2 separate regions of the Homo sapiens genome follow, and region 2 is linked to region 1. Evidence: fine-mapped expression QTL. A gene starts in region 1. The other region holds a variant in brackets. All regions are shown on one strand. Distances are between the middles of the regions. Region 1 holds the start of SESN1 (sestrin 1). Region 2 overlaps SESN1 (sestrin 1).

The links. PIP is the estimated chance that this variant, and not a neighbour inherited with it, causes the effect.
Region 2: its variant is fine-mapped to the expression of SESN1 in whole blood (INTERVAL, PIP 0.91).

Annotation. Positions count from the first base shown.
Region 1 is chr6:109,090,614-109,098,948 of GRCh38, forward strand. It overlaps SESN1 (sestrin 1), which reads right to left and starts at 4,233. Exons shown (of 10, transcript NM_014454.3): 1 at 3,182-4,233. The coding sequence starts at 3,460. CEP57L1 (centrosomal protein 57 like 1) reads left to right here and starts at 4,894. Exons shown (of 11, transcript NM_001271852.3): 1 at 4,894-4,962. RefSeq lists enhancers at 3,601-3,750, 4,621-4,880 and a silencer at 3,861-4,560.
Region 2 is chr6:109,038,613-109,046,947 of GRCh38, forward strand. The region is part of intron 1 of SESN1 (sestrin 1); the gene reads right to left. It also overlaps a transcript of ARMC2 not described here. Among named protein-coding and RNA genes, the nearest start is that of SESN1, 52 kb to the right of the region's middle. RefSeq lists a silencer at 6,854-7,148 and an enhancer at 7,236-7,803. The variant T/C (reference allele first, on the strand shown) is at 4,883.

The sequences.
Region 1 (8,335 bases):
GATAATCATGAAGATCTTCATTCTTACGGTCTTCACTTTGAGTACACTGAGGAGGAGGATCAAGAGGAGGGGTTGGTCTTGCTATCTCAGGGGTGATAGAGGTGGAATAGGCGGAAGGAGAGGCAGAAGAGGCAGGCATACTCAAGTGTAACTTTTGTTTGTTTGTTTGTTTGAAACAGGGTTTTGCTCTGTCGCCAGAGGGCTGGAGGACAATGAGACAATCACAGCTCACTGCAACCTCGAACTCTTGGGCTCAAGCGATCCTCCTGCCTTAGCCTCCTGAATAGCTGGTACTACAGGTGTGCTCCACTGCACCCAGCTAATTTTTTTTTCTTGACTTTTTGTAGAGATGGGTCTTGCTATGTTGTTCAGGCTGGTCTCCAACTCCTGACCTCAGGAGATCTTTCCACCTCAGCCTTCCAAAGTGCTGGGATTACAGGTGTGAGCCACCCCGCCCAACTTAGTATAACTTCTATTGAAAAAATAATCTTCCTATAAGTGGACTCATGCAGTTCAAACCTATGCTGTTCAAGGGTCAATTGTAATTCTATATTATTACTCTACCTTTTCTATGTTTAGATACACAAATACTTACCATTGCATTACAATTGCCAAAGCGTATTCAGTACAGTGACACGCTGTACGGGTTTGTAGCCTAGAAACAACAGGCTATATAACACATAGCCTAGGTGTGTAGTATCTAGGTTTGTGTGATTTCACCCTATGATGTTCAAACAAATATGATACCACCTAACGATGCATTTCTCAGAGTGTATCACCATCATTAAGTGACACATGACAGTATCGCAGCCAGGTCTGCCAAACTCCAGAGTATGTCCTCTTAAGCTATTCACGCCACCCTCAAACTGTCTGCCCCAGCCATATTGCATTACTTTCAGCTCCTAGAACTCATCTGCTCTCCTTGGCATGAGGCCTTCATACATACCGTTCCCTATGTCCGGAATGTCCCCTCACAAATCTCACCTTTACATGGGTAATATTTATTCATTTATCATGTCTCTGCTTAAATGTCATTGCCTCAGGAAAGCTTTCCCTTACTATCTAAAATTAAATTTTATATTTGTTTACTTCTTTATGGTCTGTTTCCCTTTGGTATGATGTCAAAATTGTTACCACTGGTCCTCAGTTCTCAGAATGACATTCAGCAGGAGTTCAATAAACATTTGTTGCATAACTGCAAGCATAAATGAATGATGCTGGGGTGGAAACTCCCTAAACTGAAAACTTCATCTATTCAGACTACTGATGAAAAACAGAAAGAAAGTATAAATTTGTTCATCCACTGGATATTTATTTAGTAGCTTCCAGGTCCCAGCCAGTACTCTTAAGAACTCATAGCCTTCCTATGGGAGACAGACACAAAAGCATGTGCTTATAACACAATATAAGTAAATTGCCTTTTATAATTGTACAATAGATGCAGAGATGGAAAAAAAGAGTATAAGTCTATAGGGAACCTTCCCAGGAAATTCCTGAGTCCTTTTGCAGGATGAAAGAGTCTTGAAATATATATTGCATAGTCTATGTATTTCACTTATGAAAGGGAGAGGAGCATCTACTATATATACCAGAGTACTTTACATCTGATTTAATTCCCACAAGAGCTCTGTGTTGTTATTCCCATTTTACAGATGTGGAAATCCAAGCTAAGAAAGGTCAAGGAATTTGCCCAAGGTTACAGGCAAGGACATTAGTAAAGGAGTGGAATTTGAGCCCAACTCTGACTCCAGTACCCACTTATTTATCATTATATTGAAATCCTTTGATACTATGCTCCCCAGAGCCTGCTTACTTTTATTTTCAATATAACTCTTAACACGATTGGTTATCTGGTTTCCCATTCTAATATGAATTAAGCAGCAAAATGAAAGATCAGGAAGAGACCAAAGTCAAGTATCCTGACGGCAAAGGAAAGAACAGAAAAACTATAAAAATTACACACAAAAATACAAAAACTAATGGATCATATAGTCAGTCCTCCACCCTTTGCTGCACAACAATAGTTGATATGCATAATGATGACCCCATTATGGACAAAAATGGTTGTTACAGTCACTACAGTCTAGAAGATAGAGAAATAACTTTTTGTGTTTCAAAGGGTAAACTTCAGTTACCTAGTATATTAATTCCTCTCGGGTAACTCTGAATTGTAACAATTGTTTCCAAAGTGTTAGTGAGAAGAAATATCCCAAGATCTTAAATAGAGTCTTCATTTTGTGGATATTATTTTTCTGTTGCTTTAAACTAAATTCAAGCCAGTATATAAAAACTGTCACTTTTAACTTACATAGTTACCCAAGTACATTTTAAATTTTAAAAATCTCTCATACAGGACTTTGGACAACACACGTGGATTGAGAAATGTAAAGATTGACAAGCATATATAAGGTGTTGCTGAATATTGTCAATATCTAAAAACTTAAAAAAAAGTATTCTAAGACACCTTGTAATAAAACAGGATAAATTATGAACGAAATGGAGGAAAAACTATAATATTTTTAACCTGCTGCACTCGTATCTTAAATAGCTACACATGTGAAAAAGAAACAATTCAGGCAAACACAGAGAAAGCTAGTTGAGCAATTTGCCATAAAAGTGTTTCTATCAAATACCCCACCTGGGTCCACCTTTTCAACATGAAGATATTAGCTTCTTTTAAGATAGGTTTTTATTATTTTATATAATTCTCTTCTTGAAAAAAGAGAGGTTGCATTTAGAGAACACATCCTGGTTTGTTTTGTTTTTAAAAATAAGAGAAAATTGTTCCACCAATTATCTTGAACAGGCTGACTAGGAAACATTTAATATCCTTTATCATTTTAGAGGCTTTTAAATGTGAGCCTTTACACTCAGAACACTGTGACAATGTGAAAAAAAAACACTGGCTACATTTTCCAACAACATGTAAAAAGAAATATAAGGAAAAACAAGTATTTACTTGGAATTAACTGTAGTTTTCATATATTCTTCCAGGAGCAAAGCAGTTTCTGCCTAAAACTCTAGAAAAACACTACTTGTTTACTTACAGAACACTCTAAAGATGTAAACTCATAATAAAAGTTTACATAACAACCTAATAGAAACAAACACAACGTGAATAACGGCAAGTAAAATTTAACTGTAGTAGAGACATAGTTGTATTTAAAATGCTCTTCCTTACCTGGATGCTCTTCAGAATAAACTCACTTTTCTCTCTCACATCTTTGAAGGGACACCTCTTAGAAAGCATAAGCAGATGAGCAAGTAGCTTATTCAACCCATCCGAAGACTCGGTATTTGAAAGCCCGTCTGATGGACGATGAGGTGTTTCTTTCACCGAACGAAGATACTCGGTTTTCCTCAAAATGGTTTGCCTAATGTTTTCCAATGCTGTCTCCCTAGTAGTTGAATCTCTGCTGCAGAGTCCATCCCATCTCACTTCATTCTCTCCTTCAGCCATGACAATAGTTTTTCCTTTGCGGTCTTCAGTTACCTTTCAGCATGCCCCAAAAAAATTGCTTTGTATTTTTAAAATGAAAAATGTAAAAATAAAATCAGAGAAATCAAATCGTCATGAAAACACACATCTGGGTGACATTTGGAACCACTGGTGCCTTCAGCCGATCTACAAGCTAGGTCACCCTCTCACCCTCTCCTTGTACACGAAAGGGCAGTCTTCTTTCTGGAAAAACAAAGTTTGAAAGTTGCAACCTTGCAGCGCTGGCTTTGGTGGGCAGAGAATTTCGGGGAAGCGTTCTCCTCCGTCTCGCGGGGTCAGTGGATATCCTCACGTTGTGGAGCTGTCAAATCCGTGCTCTGCCCCAAAAGGCTGTTAACAGCTGAACGCCCTCCAGCCATTCGGGGCTTTTTTGTCTGTGCAGCCACCGGGTTCTCTCCGGCGTTCCCACCCCGCCCCTTCTCCGACACCAGTCCCCGCCCTCCGCAGCTCCTCCCAGCGCCTCAGCAGCCGGCCGGCGCCGGCAGGGAAGGCTCGCCGAACCCTGGCCCACTGGCCGCAGCGGCCGGAGGCTTGGGCGCTGTCGGAGGGCGGCAGTCTCGGGCAGCCGTAGTCTCGGCGGGCGGCGGTGAAAAAAAGCGTCCCCCAGCCCCGCCAATTCGGCACCCCCGGGAAGACGCTACTTCTCCGATCCCTGAGCCCTCGCCCACCACCGCCGAGCCAGAGGGCACAGGGCGGCCCTGGCAATCCTCGAGCGCCAGGCTGGGCCGCGGAGCTGGCGGGGCGGCGGGGCCCGAGGCGCAAAGCCCGCCCTTCGCCCAGCCCCATCGGTGGGGATCAGCCCAGAGGGCGGGAGCAGGGAGTGGAGACGGGGTCCTCACCCCCAGCCCCTCCCCTTTCTCCGCCCGGCACAAACCGGGAGCCGCCCCGGCCCCAGCGCCTTCTTCCCCGCCCAGGCAGACGCGACCCGCCGAGGCAAAGCCTTAGGAAAAAGCCCCGCCCTCTGGCAGGCTACCCTCCGGACCCCAAGTGCGCCGCGCGCGGCTGCCAGCCACTGCCGGCTGCTACGCATGCGTGACTGCGAACTGGGCCAAGCGCCCCCGGAGGCGCTAAGCTTGCGCCCTGAGGCGGTTTCCGTTCCCGGACGTTTGGACTCTGTCCTGGAGAAGGGGAAGGAAAAAGTAAGACGTAGAAGTACACTGAGACTTCGTCACACATAAAACAAGCACGACAAAGAAAGAGGGCGCGAAGGGACTCCTGGAAGAAATTGAGTCTACATTTAAGATCACCCTAAAAGTAGTGACGGCCTCTTCATTACTCCAAACCCCAGATTTAAGTCGGTAGGACGTCTTCGCGTTGACTTGTGGGGAATGTAGTTTCGATGCTGCCGGCGCGTTTTGTTTGCGACAGAAACTACAACCCCCAGGGGCCACCGCGACGTTGCCTGTGGGTGCCCGCGAACCAACGGTTAGCGGTGGCAGGGGCTGACTGAGAGCGTCTGCTTGGTAAGCACTGTAAGCTGGGTTGTCACCTTTCCTTGACAGGGTTTTTCCTTCCTCCATTTCCTCTGGGATTTTGGAGACAAAGCCATCTAGGGTGGCCTCCCTTAGTCCAAGGACTTTTTCCAGTGACTTGCGTGGGAAGGACTAGTCCAGCTGCCCAAGCGCGGGGTGTGGTGGGTGAGGCAAGGATTTGGGATCCTGATCCCAAGGGTCGCAGGGAGCGGCCTAAGTAAGGCCAAGAAGGAAGGATGCTGTGGAAACTGGAGCTTCGCGCTGCTGCCTCTGATTCCGCCCTTTTTTGTGGACACACGCGGGGTGGATTTGGGATCTCCGCGCATTTGCACCTTTGTTTGCCTTTGCTTAGGGATGTTCTGGGCTTTATTTGCTCAGTCAAATGAAATCCTAGGCAGGGCTTTGAAAGCAAGTTGTCAAATCCATCTCGTAAAAGAATCCCCAGTATTCCTAGATAGGAATTCTTGCAGGCTTTAAGGATACAGCAGGAAAAAGAAAGCAAAACCGTAAAAGTCTCCAAAACTTAGTCGACTTTTTCAAAAGATTCAGTCATTTGCTTAAAATTAGTTTGCTTTTAAAAAGTTATTATTTGAGAAAAGTCGAGGTTTGAACGGCCATCAGTGGACTGATAATCGGTGTAGATTTTAATTCTTTACATTGCAGAATTGCATTGCACTAAATTCTAAAAATTTCGTCTTGCTAGGCACTGAGTATACAACAATGAAAAAGACAGTCTTACTAGTTAGAGGAACTAGTTGTTAGACATACGGTTACAATAATACATGATATCACTGGGATGTCTAGAAGGAGATGACTTAGCCCAATCTTGGAAAGTCAGGGAAATCTTCATCCCAGGGGAAATGAAGACCAAAAGAACAGCATATGCTAAGGCCCAGAGTGAGAGATAGGGTACTTTCAGGAAACGTCAGTAAGCCAAATCATGCATACTTGGCGGTGTGGGGTGGGACGGGAAGGGTGCTTTTTGTGTATTGATGCACTTAGAAGCTACAAAGAGACAGGTATTGTGAATTCTTTACATCGTTTCTGTAAGTGAGCTATTTTTGAATAGATGCATAGTTCTGATGAATTGGTCTAATTTCAAAAGCCTTGTTACATTCTGACACTTCTAGTTTGAATCTGAATTTTAAAAAGGGAATAACTTATGAGTGTGATTGAAAAAGCAAAACAAAAACCATTCCGTTTTCATCTCCTTTTTGGGATCTTCATTCTCTATCCAGCCCATAAAGGGTCGGGTAGTTTCTTAAGGCTGGGTGCCTTTTTATGCCGTAGTTAAATATGATCTCATGTATACCCATGGCTTCACCAACACCTATGACTCTCAAATGAATAGCTCCATTCAGCTTCACCTCTCAGCTTTCACAATATCTCTTGGATATTTCTTCTTGGATATCTCAAAAGCATCTCAAACTCAACATACCTAAAACCAAATGCATAGTTATCTCTTATGAATCTAATTCTTTTTCAGTGTTCCTTATTTCAGCAAAGGACACTACTATCCATCTACTTGTGAAAATTTGAAAGCTAAACATTATTCTTTATTTCTTCTTGCCCTTCATACTTCTATGGCCAAATTATTATGAAGTTCTGCCAACCTTATCTCTCAAAATATCCTTCAAATATATTTTTCTCTCCACCTGTCTTCAAACTGCGATAATCTCTCAAGACCACTACAGTAGCAATTATTCACAATGACCCTCCTCCATTAGTTCTCCATTATATCTGCCAGAATGATTTTTTGAAACTGCAGATTTGATCAGATTTTCTCTTGGTTAAAACTATTCAGTGGTGTCCTACTACTGTTAAAGACAAAACTCCTTTATAAAGCCTGACATCATCTGGTACTCTTTCAGACTAACTTCATATATTGCCCTCCAGATCAGCCATACAGTCCATTTTTCAGTCATTGGTTCTCATATTCCATTTCACCCACGCGTTTACTCAACAAATCTCTGTTGAGTCCCTTTTATATAACAGGACATTGAAGATACAGCATTGACCACAATATATAAAAATTCCTACTGTCATAGAGCTTGCATTCTACTGAGGAGAGATAATAAATAAATATGTAAAACACTTAGTAAATGAAATGAAGACAAATGCAGTGGAGAATAAAACAACTGGGAAGGGGAATGGGGAGTGCCAGGATGTGAGGGGCAAGGTTCACTTTTAAATAAGGTTGTTAGAAAAGACATAATCCAGAAGGGGACAATTGAGATATGAAGTAGGGGAGGGAATAAACCATGTAGATGCCTGGGCAAATAACATTCTAATGAAGAGAATTAGTGCAAAGGCCTTGGGCAGAAGCCTGAGTGCGCATTTGAGAAATAGCAAGAAGGCTAGTGTGGCTGGAGCACAATGAGTACAAAGAGGAGAATAACATGAGGTCACAGAGAAAGGAAGTAATGGTAGGAGAACATGTAGGTGACTGAAAGGACTAACATTTTTAATTGGGTTGGGAAAGCATTGGAGAGTTTTGCGCAGATGAGGGCATGATCTGACTTTTAAAAAATGACTACTTTTCTCTCTCTCTCTTTCTCTCTCTCTCTCTCTCCCTCTGTCTCAACGGAGTTTTGCTCTTGTTGCCCAGGCTGGAGTGCAATAGCACAATCTTGGCTCACTGCAACCTCCACCTCCCAAGTTTAAGTGATTCTTCGTCCTCGGCCTCCCAAGTAGCTGGGATTACAGGCATGCACCACCATACCTGGCTAATTTTGTGTTTTTAGTAGAGACAGGGTTTCACCATGTTGGTCAGGCTGGTCTTGAATTCCTAACCTCAAGTGATCCACCCACCTCAGCCTTGCAAAGTGCTGGATTACAGGTGTGAGCCACCGTGCCCGGCCTCTTTCTTTTTTCCTGAGACAGAATCTGACTATGTCACCCAGGCTGGAGTATAGTCATAGCTCACTGCATCCTTGAACTCCTGGGCTCAAGTAATCCTCCCACCTCAGTCTCCCAGGTAGTTGGGACTACAGGCACGTGCCAACAAGCCCAGCTAATTTTGTATTTTTTCCTTTTTTTTTTTAACTGAAATTACATAACTGAGATAATTTTTGTCTTTTTGTAGAGACAGGATCTCACTGTGTTGCCCAGGCTGGTCTTGAACTCCTCAAGTGATTGCCTCAAGTGATCCTCCTGCCTCAGCCTCCCAAAGTGCTGAGATTAGAGGCATAACCCACTGCAACTGGCCTGAAGTGAATATTTCTTTTAAATTGTGTTGAGCATAGACCATAGGGAAGCAAGGGTGGAAGCAGAGAGACTGGTTAGGAAACTAAAGTAATAATCCAGGTGACAGAATCTGGATACATTTTGATAGTATAGCCAACAGACTTTGCTGACAGATTGT
Region 2 (8,335 bases), 52 kb before region 1:
CTGTTTCTCATTTCACACCCACTTAGGGGCATATGCTCTGAGTGGGATGTGGGACAGAATTGCCTATGCAATTTATATTTAAAATATTTTCTGCCCTACCTTAAGAAATTTTTAATAAGCAAGAATAGTTAAATTTGCATAAGTTAAGTGTATGAATGAGGTAACTCCATTGTAGGGATCAGCTACTTCCCTAAGAGCAGATTCTGACGGCAATTGGGGCAGAAAGAAAGGAAAAAGAAGAGCAAGAGGAGGAGGAAGAAGAAATGAAGAGGAAAAGAAGAAGGAAGGAGAAAAAAGGAAGGAGGAGGAGGAGGAGAAGAAAAGAGAAGAAGAAAAGAAGGGAGAAGGGAGAAGAAGGAAAAGAAAAAGAAGAAGGAGGAGGAGGAGAAAAGAAGAAAGAGAAAGAAAGAAAAAGAGAAAGAAAGAAGAAGGAGGGAGAAGGAGAACAAGAAGGAGGAAGAAAGGAGGGAGGAAAAGGAGAAGGAGGGAGGAGAAGGAGAAGGAAGGAGGAGAAGGAGAAAGAAAGAAGAGGAGAAGGAAGGAGGAGGAGGAGAAGAAAGAAGAAGAAGAAAGAAGAGGCTCTGTGCCTGAGGGCAAGGAAGGGATACTATAGAGGGTAGGGAAGACCATGACCAAAGATAAATTTTGCCTACTTCACAAATTTGTATGGAATATAAATTGTATATACTGCATAAATCATTTAAGTCATAATAGCTTATTAATCATACCATCTTACATTCTCAAACATGATTAACTGAGAATTTTCTGTAATTTCCCTTCACTTTTACAAACAGTAACTATTAATGTCAAAGTATCATCATTGTATTTCACGATTTTCAGTTCAAGATGAGGTCCAATTTAAGACAACTTGGAGGCAAGAACATCAAATCTGCAAATCACAGAGCTGTCTGGTGACTTTTCTTACTGAGTACTGCCAGCAAGCACTGGCTATCTTTATCTTGATAAGCACTACTAAAACATCTCAAGTGGAGGGGTCATAGTCCCATCACTGGGATTAAAAACCAAAATATATAGATGATTTACATTTGTAGATTCTAAACTTGCTAACCCAAATGGCGAAATGAGTTACTAGAAACGAGAACCAGTATTTTCATAAACTACAAAGTTTCTAGTAAAAGTTATTTTAGCTACCAATTCAGTTTTTTAAGAACCTTGTTGATCTTTCTATTGTCTTAACTAGAGTCTTGTTCATATAGAAAATAAGTTAGTGAAGTGAATTATTGTGGCTTCAACTCTGAAAAGGAAGCAGGATGGGAGAGAGGAGAAAGCACAGTCAAGGGGGATTATTTCATGGCCACAGACTGCATCACAGCTGTGGCTGGGATTTCACAAATGTGTATGTACCAACAGTCAAATGAAGGACTGTGAGAGAATGTGTATGGCTGAGCTCACTTAGGAACCACGACTGGGAAAACAATTACCTGGAAAGAGATGGCCTACTGATACCAAGTACAGTATTATCTTTAGCGTAAAAACTTCAGTCATGAGATAAGAGATTATTATTTGAATTGCTAGTCTTCAACTACAGAACTAATAAAAGTTAAGCAACAACTACCCCCACCACAACCCCCAACTCTCCCTTCTTTCACAAGAGAAATAATCTAGTTTGGCAAGTCTCCTCTCCTTTATATGACATTCCTTTTTATTATATTTAAATACACCTTTTTGAACAAATTATGCAGAAAAGTATTACGACTGAGGATTTTTTAGGGGGAGTAATAATAAATTACTGGGGTTGAAGAAGGATTAAAAGGTTTCATTTATTGTTTTGGACTTCTGATTTCTCTGTCAATTTAGTTGTTAAATGTGGGAAAGTTACTAAGAATTTATCATTTTAGTTGTGCCATTCTCATTCCTTGTGTACATACTTGTCCAAGGACTCTTAGGGTAACGCCAGCAAATTACATCAGGTGTCCCACTACAATGATTAAATTAAAACAGGAATTCTTGGTGTCGCTTCCCTGAATTTAACTTCTTGAAAACAAATGAACTGTTAAACATATATGTGACAAACTAGCATAATCTTTTTTTTTTTTTTTGAGACAGTCTCGCTCTGTCGCCCAGGCTGGAGTGCAGTGGCGCAATCTCATCTCACTGCAAGCTCTGCCTCCTGGGTTCAAGCGATTCTCCCGCCTCAGCCTCCTGAGTAGCTGGAACTACAGGTGCACGCGACCACGCCCAGCTAATTTTTTGTATTTTTAGTAGAGACGGGGTTTCACCGTGTTAGCCAGGATGGTCTCAATCTCCTGACCTCGTGATCTGCCCGCCTCAGCCTCCCAAAGTGCTGGGATTACAGGCGTGAGCCACCGCACCTGGCCCAAACTAGCATAAATTTTTAAAATAACATACCCTCAATTTACAGAGTGTGCATCATTTCAAATTGCAGGCCAGGCACAGTGGCTCATGCCCATAATCCCAGCACTTTGGGAAGCTGAGGAAGGAGATTAGCATGAGCCCAGGAGTTTGAGATCAGCCTGGGCAACATAGTGGGACCCTGTTTCTATTAAAAAAAAAAAAAACAAACCAAAACTAGCCAGGCATTGTGGCATGCACCTATAGTCCCAGCTACTTGGGGGGCTTAGGCAGGAGGATTGTTTGAACACAGAAGGTTAAGGCTGCAGTGAGTTGTGATTGTGCCAGTCTGGGTGGCAGAGTGAGACTCTGTCTCAAAAACTAAATAAATAATAATTTAAAAAAATAAAATAAAATTGCAACATAAAAATAGCAGATGACCTTTTGCTATTTCTCATCTCCAACAACTCAGTAAATCTACCAAACATACTTGTACAAGTACTTACGCCACTAACAAGTAACTATTAAGCCAAAGGAGGGATTTTGAGGACAATGAAAAAGCGGTAGAAGTTATTTACCATAATTGTTGTTTTACTACATTTTTTGAAAAAGCAGGAATTTTTATATTAATACCAAATAAAGTAGACTTCAGAGCAAAGAAAATTACCAGAGACAAGGAGGGACATTATATATCATGATAAAAAGTTAAACCCACCAAGAATATATAGCAATACCCAAATGTACATCCACCAAACAGAGCTGTAAAATATATGAAGGAAAACCTGGTAGTACGGAAAGGAGAAATAAACAAATCCATAATTATAGCAGGAGACTTCAACATTCCTCTCTCAACAATTGCTAGAACAACTAGACAGAAAATCAGCAAAAATGTAGAGGAACTCAACAATATTATAAACCAACAGGATGTAATCAACATTTATAAAATACTCTACCTAATAAGAAAATACATAGCCTTTTAGCATGCTCAGGGAATATATACCAAAACAGAATACATCATGGCCATAAAATAAATTTGAATATATTTAAAAGAATGAAAATCATGCAAAGTATGTGTTCTCTGATCATAACGAAATCACACTAGAAGTAAATAATAGAAAGATAATAGGAAAATGGAAGCCTGGACACATTTGCAAACTAAACACCACACTCAGAAATAATTCATGAGTGAAAGAGGAGGTATCGGGGAGATTTAAAAAATATATTGAATAGGATGAAAATGAAAATACAACATATCAAAATTTGTGGGACACAGCTGAAGCAGTGCTGAGAGGGAAATTTATAACACTACATATATACATTAAAAAATAAAAAATTCAAATAAATGATCTAAAATTCTATGTCAAGAGCCTAGGGAAAGAAGAGCAGTATAAACTGAGAATCAAGCAGACAGAAGAAAATAATAAAGAACAAACATCAATGAATTTGAAAACAGAAAAACAAAAGAGTAAAAGAAAATCAGTGAAACAAACTGCTGGTTCTTTGAAAAGAAAAAAAAATTGAAAAACCTCTAGCAAGACTGACACGGGAATTAAGAGAAGACATAAATTACCAATATCTATTAGGAATGAAACAGAGGATTATTGCGAAAAAAAAAAAACAAACCTGCAAAGACCAAAAGATAATAATGGAATACTGTGAACATTCTATACTCATACATTTGACAAGTTAGACAAAATGGGTCAATTCCCACCATAACTCCATAACTCACCTACTATGAAATAGATCACCTGAATAGCCCTATTGCTATTAAGAAAATTGAATTTGTGATTTTTAAAAACTCCCCCAAAATAAATTTCCAAATCCAGTTTATTTCACTGGATAACTCCACCAAACATTTAAAGAATTAACTCCAATTTTACATAATATTTTCCAGAAAACAAGGAGGGAAAAATTTTCAATTATTTTTATGAAGCTAGTATTAACCTAATACCAAAACCAGACAAAGACAATACAAAAAAAGAAAAATACAGCCTCATGAAAATGGAGGCAAAAATCCTAAACAAAATATTAGCAAACAGAATTCCACAATGTATAAAAAGCATTATATATCAAGATTTAGGGGGATTTATTCCAGGAATGCATGGCTGGTTCAACATCTGAAAATCAATGCAATCTACCATTTTAACAGGCTAAGGAAGAAAAACCATATGTTCATATTAATTGATGCAGAAAAACATTTGAGTAAATTTAACACTCATTTATGATTTTTAAAAACTTTCAGAAAAATAAGAACAGAGTGGGAGTTACCTCAGCTTAAAAACTTCTACAAAAACCTACAGCTGTTTTTATACTTAACGGTGAAAGATGGAATGCTTTCCTCTTAAGATTGGGAAGAAGGAAAGAATATTTACTCTCACCACTCTTACACAACATAGTCCTGGAAGTTCTAGTCAGGGCAATAAGGCAAGAAAAGTAAATAAAAGCCATACAGATAAAAAACAACAACAACAACAAAAACAACAAACGGAATAAATAACAACTGTCCCTACTTATAGATGACACAATTATGTACATAGAAAATCCCAAGGAATTTATAAAAAACAACGAA[T/C]TCCTAGAACTAATAAGGGAGTTGAGCAGGTTGCAGGATACAAAGTTAATATACAAGAGTGAATTGCTTTTCTATAGACCATCAGTGAACAACTGGAATTTGAAATTAAAAGAATTACAATAAAAAAGAAAATAGGCATAAATCCAACAAAATATGTATAGACTCTATACACCAAAAACTACAAAACTCTGATCAAAGAAATCAAAAATCCAAATAAGTGGAGAAATATTCAATGCTCATAGATTGGAAGACTCAATACTAGTAAGGTGTCCATTTTTCCCATCTGTAAGTTCAACATTCCAAATATAATCTTGGCAAGCTATTTTGTAAATGTCAACAAACTGATTCAAAATTTTATATGGAAAGGCAAAAGACCTAGAACAGTCATACTAACTGTTTTCATGACTTATTATAAAGCTATCATAATTAATACAGCATGATATTGGTGAAAGGACAGATACACATATCAATGGAACAGAATAGAGAGCCCAGAAATAGACTGATAAAAATATGGTCAACTTATTGTTAACAAAGAAGTGGCCAGGTATGGTGGCTCACACCTGTAATCCCAGCACTTTGGGAGGCCAAGGCAAGAGGATTGCTTGAGCCCAGGAGTTCAAGACCAGCCGAAGCAACACAGGGAGACTCCACTACTACAAATAAAAAAAAAATTATCCAGGCATAGTGGCACCTGCCGGTGATCCCAGCTACTTGGGAGGCTAAGACAGGAGGGCTGTCTGAGCCAAGGATACCAGGGCAGTGAGCCGTGATCACACCACCACACTCCAGCCTAGATGACACAGTGAGAACTTGCCTCAAAAAAAAAAAAAAAAAAAAAAAAAAAAAAAAAAAAAAGGAGTACAGGCAATTCAATGGAGAAAGGAAGAAAGGATAGTCTTTCCACCAAGTAATGATGAAATAATAGGACATCCATACGCAAAGAAAAGAAAGAAAACAAAATGATTCTAGACATAAACCTCATACCCTTAACAAAAAGTAACTCAAAATGGATCACAGACCTAAATTTAATATATAAGACTAAAAAACATCTAGAAGAAAACATAAGAGAATATCTACATCTAGATCACCCTGAATGATCTCACGCTTTCATCACTGACCAAACCTGTAATTACATCTCAGTCCTTTCTCCTGAATCTGAGGCCTATTTCTCTATCTACCTAATATATTTAATCTTGATGTCACACAGACATCTCGAATCAAAAAATAAAAAATAAAAAGCTGAACTCAGCCGGGCGCAGTGGCTCACGCCTGTAATCCCAGCACTTTGGGAGGTCGAGGAGGGCAGATCACCTGAGGTCAGGAGTTTGAGACCAGCCTGACCAACATGAAGAAACCCCATCTCTACTAAAAATACAAAATTAGCTGAGCGTGGTGGCGCATGCCTGTAATCTCAGCTACTTGGGCAGCTGAGGCAAGAGAATCGGTTGAACCCAGGAGGTAGAGGTTGCGGTGAGCTGAGATTGCGCCACTGCACTCCATCCTGGGCAACAAGAGCGAGACTCCATTTCAAAAAAAAAAAAGCTGAACTCATCACCTTCCCCAAACCCATTGCACTACGCTACCACCTCTTATATTCCCTATCTCCACGAAGGCCTTCATTATACCTCCAGTTGTCCAGTGCAGACACCTGCAAGTCTGTGCCTAGCTAGGCTCCTCTGACACCCTTACTAACCTCTTGTCAAGTTCTGAATATTCTACATCCTAGAAACTGTAAAATCTATCCCCTATCCTCAACCTCACTCCCAACCCCATCAAAACAGTCCCTCACCATGTCTCTCCCAGATTAGAACGATAGCCTCCTTTCTGTCTCAATGCCTTTGCCACCTTCTAGCCTATTCTCTACACTGGAGAAGTCTTTCCAAAATGCAGATCTGATGATGATATAATCCTTTATAGGTTCCCCCTAACTTTCAAAATAAAATCCAGATTCTTCACATGGCATATAATTCCATTTCAGATTGCATCTCTGCCTATGTCTCCAATGATACTGAGTTCAACTTACTTACAGTTCTTCAAACACAGTAAATCTCATGGTTCTGTACTTTTGCACATGCTAATCTCTCTGACCAGAGCACCTTATCTCTCACTTCTTCAACTGGCCTCTCCTTAGTCAGGCTTCAAGAGCCAGCTGAGGCATTACTCTTCTACAGCGCTTACCCTGGCTACTCCCTTTCTGTATCCCCTCATCCCCAACCATCCAAAGCCTTTGCAGAATTCTCTTGCATGGCACTTACTAGTATATACCATAACTGCCTGTTTATCTTGCCCACCTGTCTGTGAGCTCCTTGAGAATGAGACCTTTGCCTTATCTGTTTCTCCAGTGTCTGGCATGGAATGTTACACAGAGTAGATAATACATGTTTCTGAAATAAATAAATGTGAGGCACGATATGGAAGAACTCTGATTGAAAATAAGAATTTGATTTTGAACCCATATGGGCTGAAAAAAGCGTATTCTGTCTTTTGCTCTAAATGAAAAACCAATGCCTCAACTTTCAATAATTCATATACTTTGGAACATAAGTAAAAAATATTATATTTACAAGCTTAAAAAAATCTAATGCAATAAGATAATGTAGCTCTAGCCCTCTCCCTCTCCCTCTCCCCACGGTCTCCCTCTCATGCGGAGCCGAAGCTGGACTGTACTGCTGCCATCTCGGCTCACTGCAACCTCCCTGCCTGATTCTCCTGCCTCAGCCTGCCGAGTGCCTGCGATTGCAGGCACGCGCCGCCACGCCTGACTGGTTTTGGTGGAGACGGGGTTTCGCTGTGTTGGCCGGGCCGGTCTCCAGCCCCTAACCGCGAGTGATCCGCCAGCCTTGGCCTCCCGAGGTGCCGGGATTGCAGACGGAGTCTCGTTCACTCAGTGCTCAATGGTGCCCAGGCTGGAGTGCAGTGGCATGATCTCGGCTCACTACAACCTACACCTCCCAGCCGCCTGCCTTGGCCTCCCAAAGTGCCGAGATTGCAGCCTCTGCCCGGCCGCCACCCCGTCTGGGAAGTGAGGAGTGTCTCTGCCTGGCCACCCATCGTCTGGGATGTGAGGAGCCCCTCTGCCTGGCTGCCCAGTCTGGAAAGTGAGGAGCGTCTGCGCCCGGCCGCCATCCCATCTAGGAAGTGAGGAGCGCCTCTTCCCAGCCGCCATCACATCTAGGAAGTGAGGAGCGTCTCTGCCCGGCCGCCCATCGTCTGAGATGTGGGGAGCGCCTCTGCCCCGCCGCCCCATCTGGGTTGTGAGGAGTGCCTCTGCCCGGCCGAGACCCCGTCTGGGAGGTGAGGAGCGTCTCTGCCCGGCCGCCCTGTCTGAGAAGTGAGGAGACCCTCTGCCTGGCAACCACCCCGTATGAGAAGTGAGGAGCCCCTCCGTCCGGCAGCTGCCCCGTCTGAGAAGTGAGGAGCCTCTCCGCCCGGCAGCCACCCCATCTGGGAAGT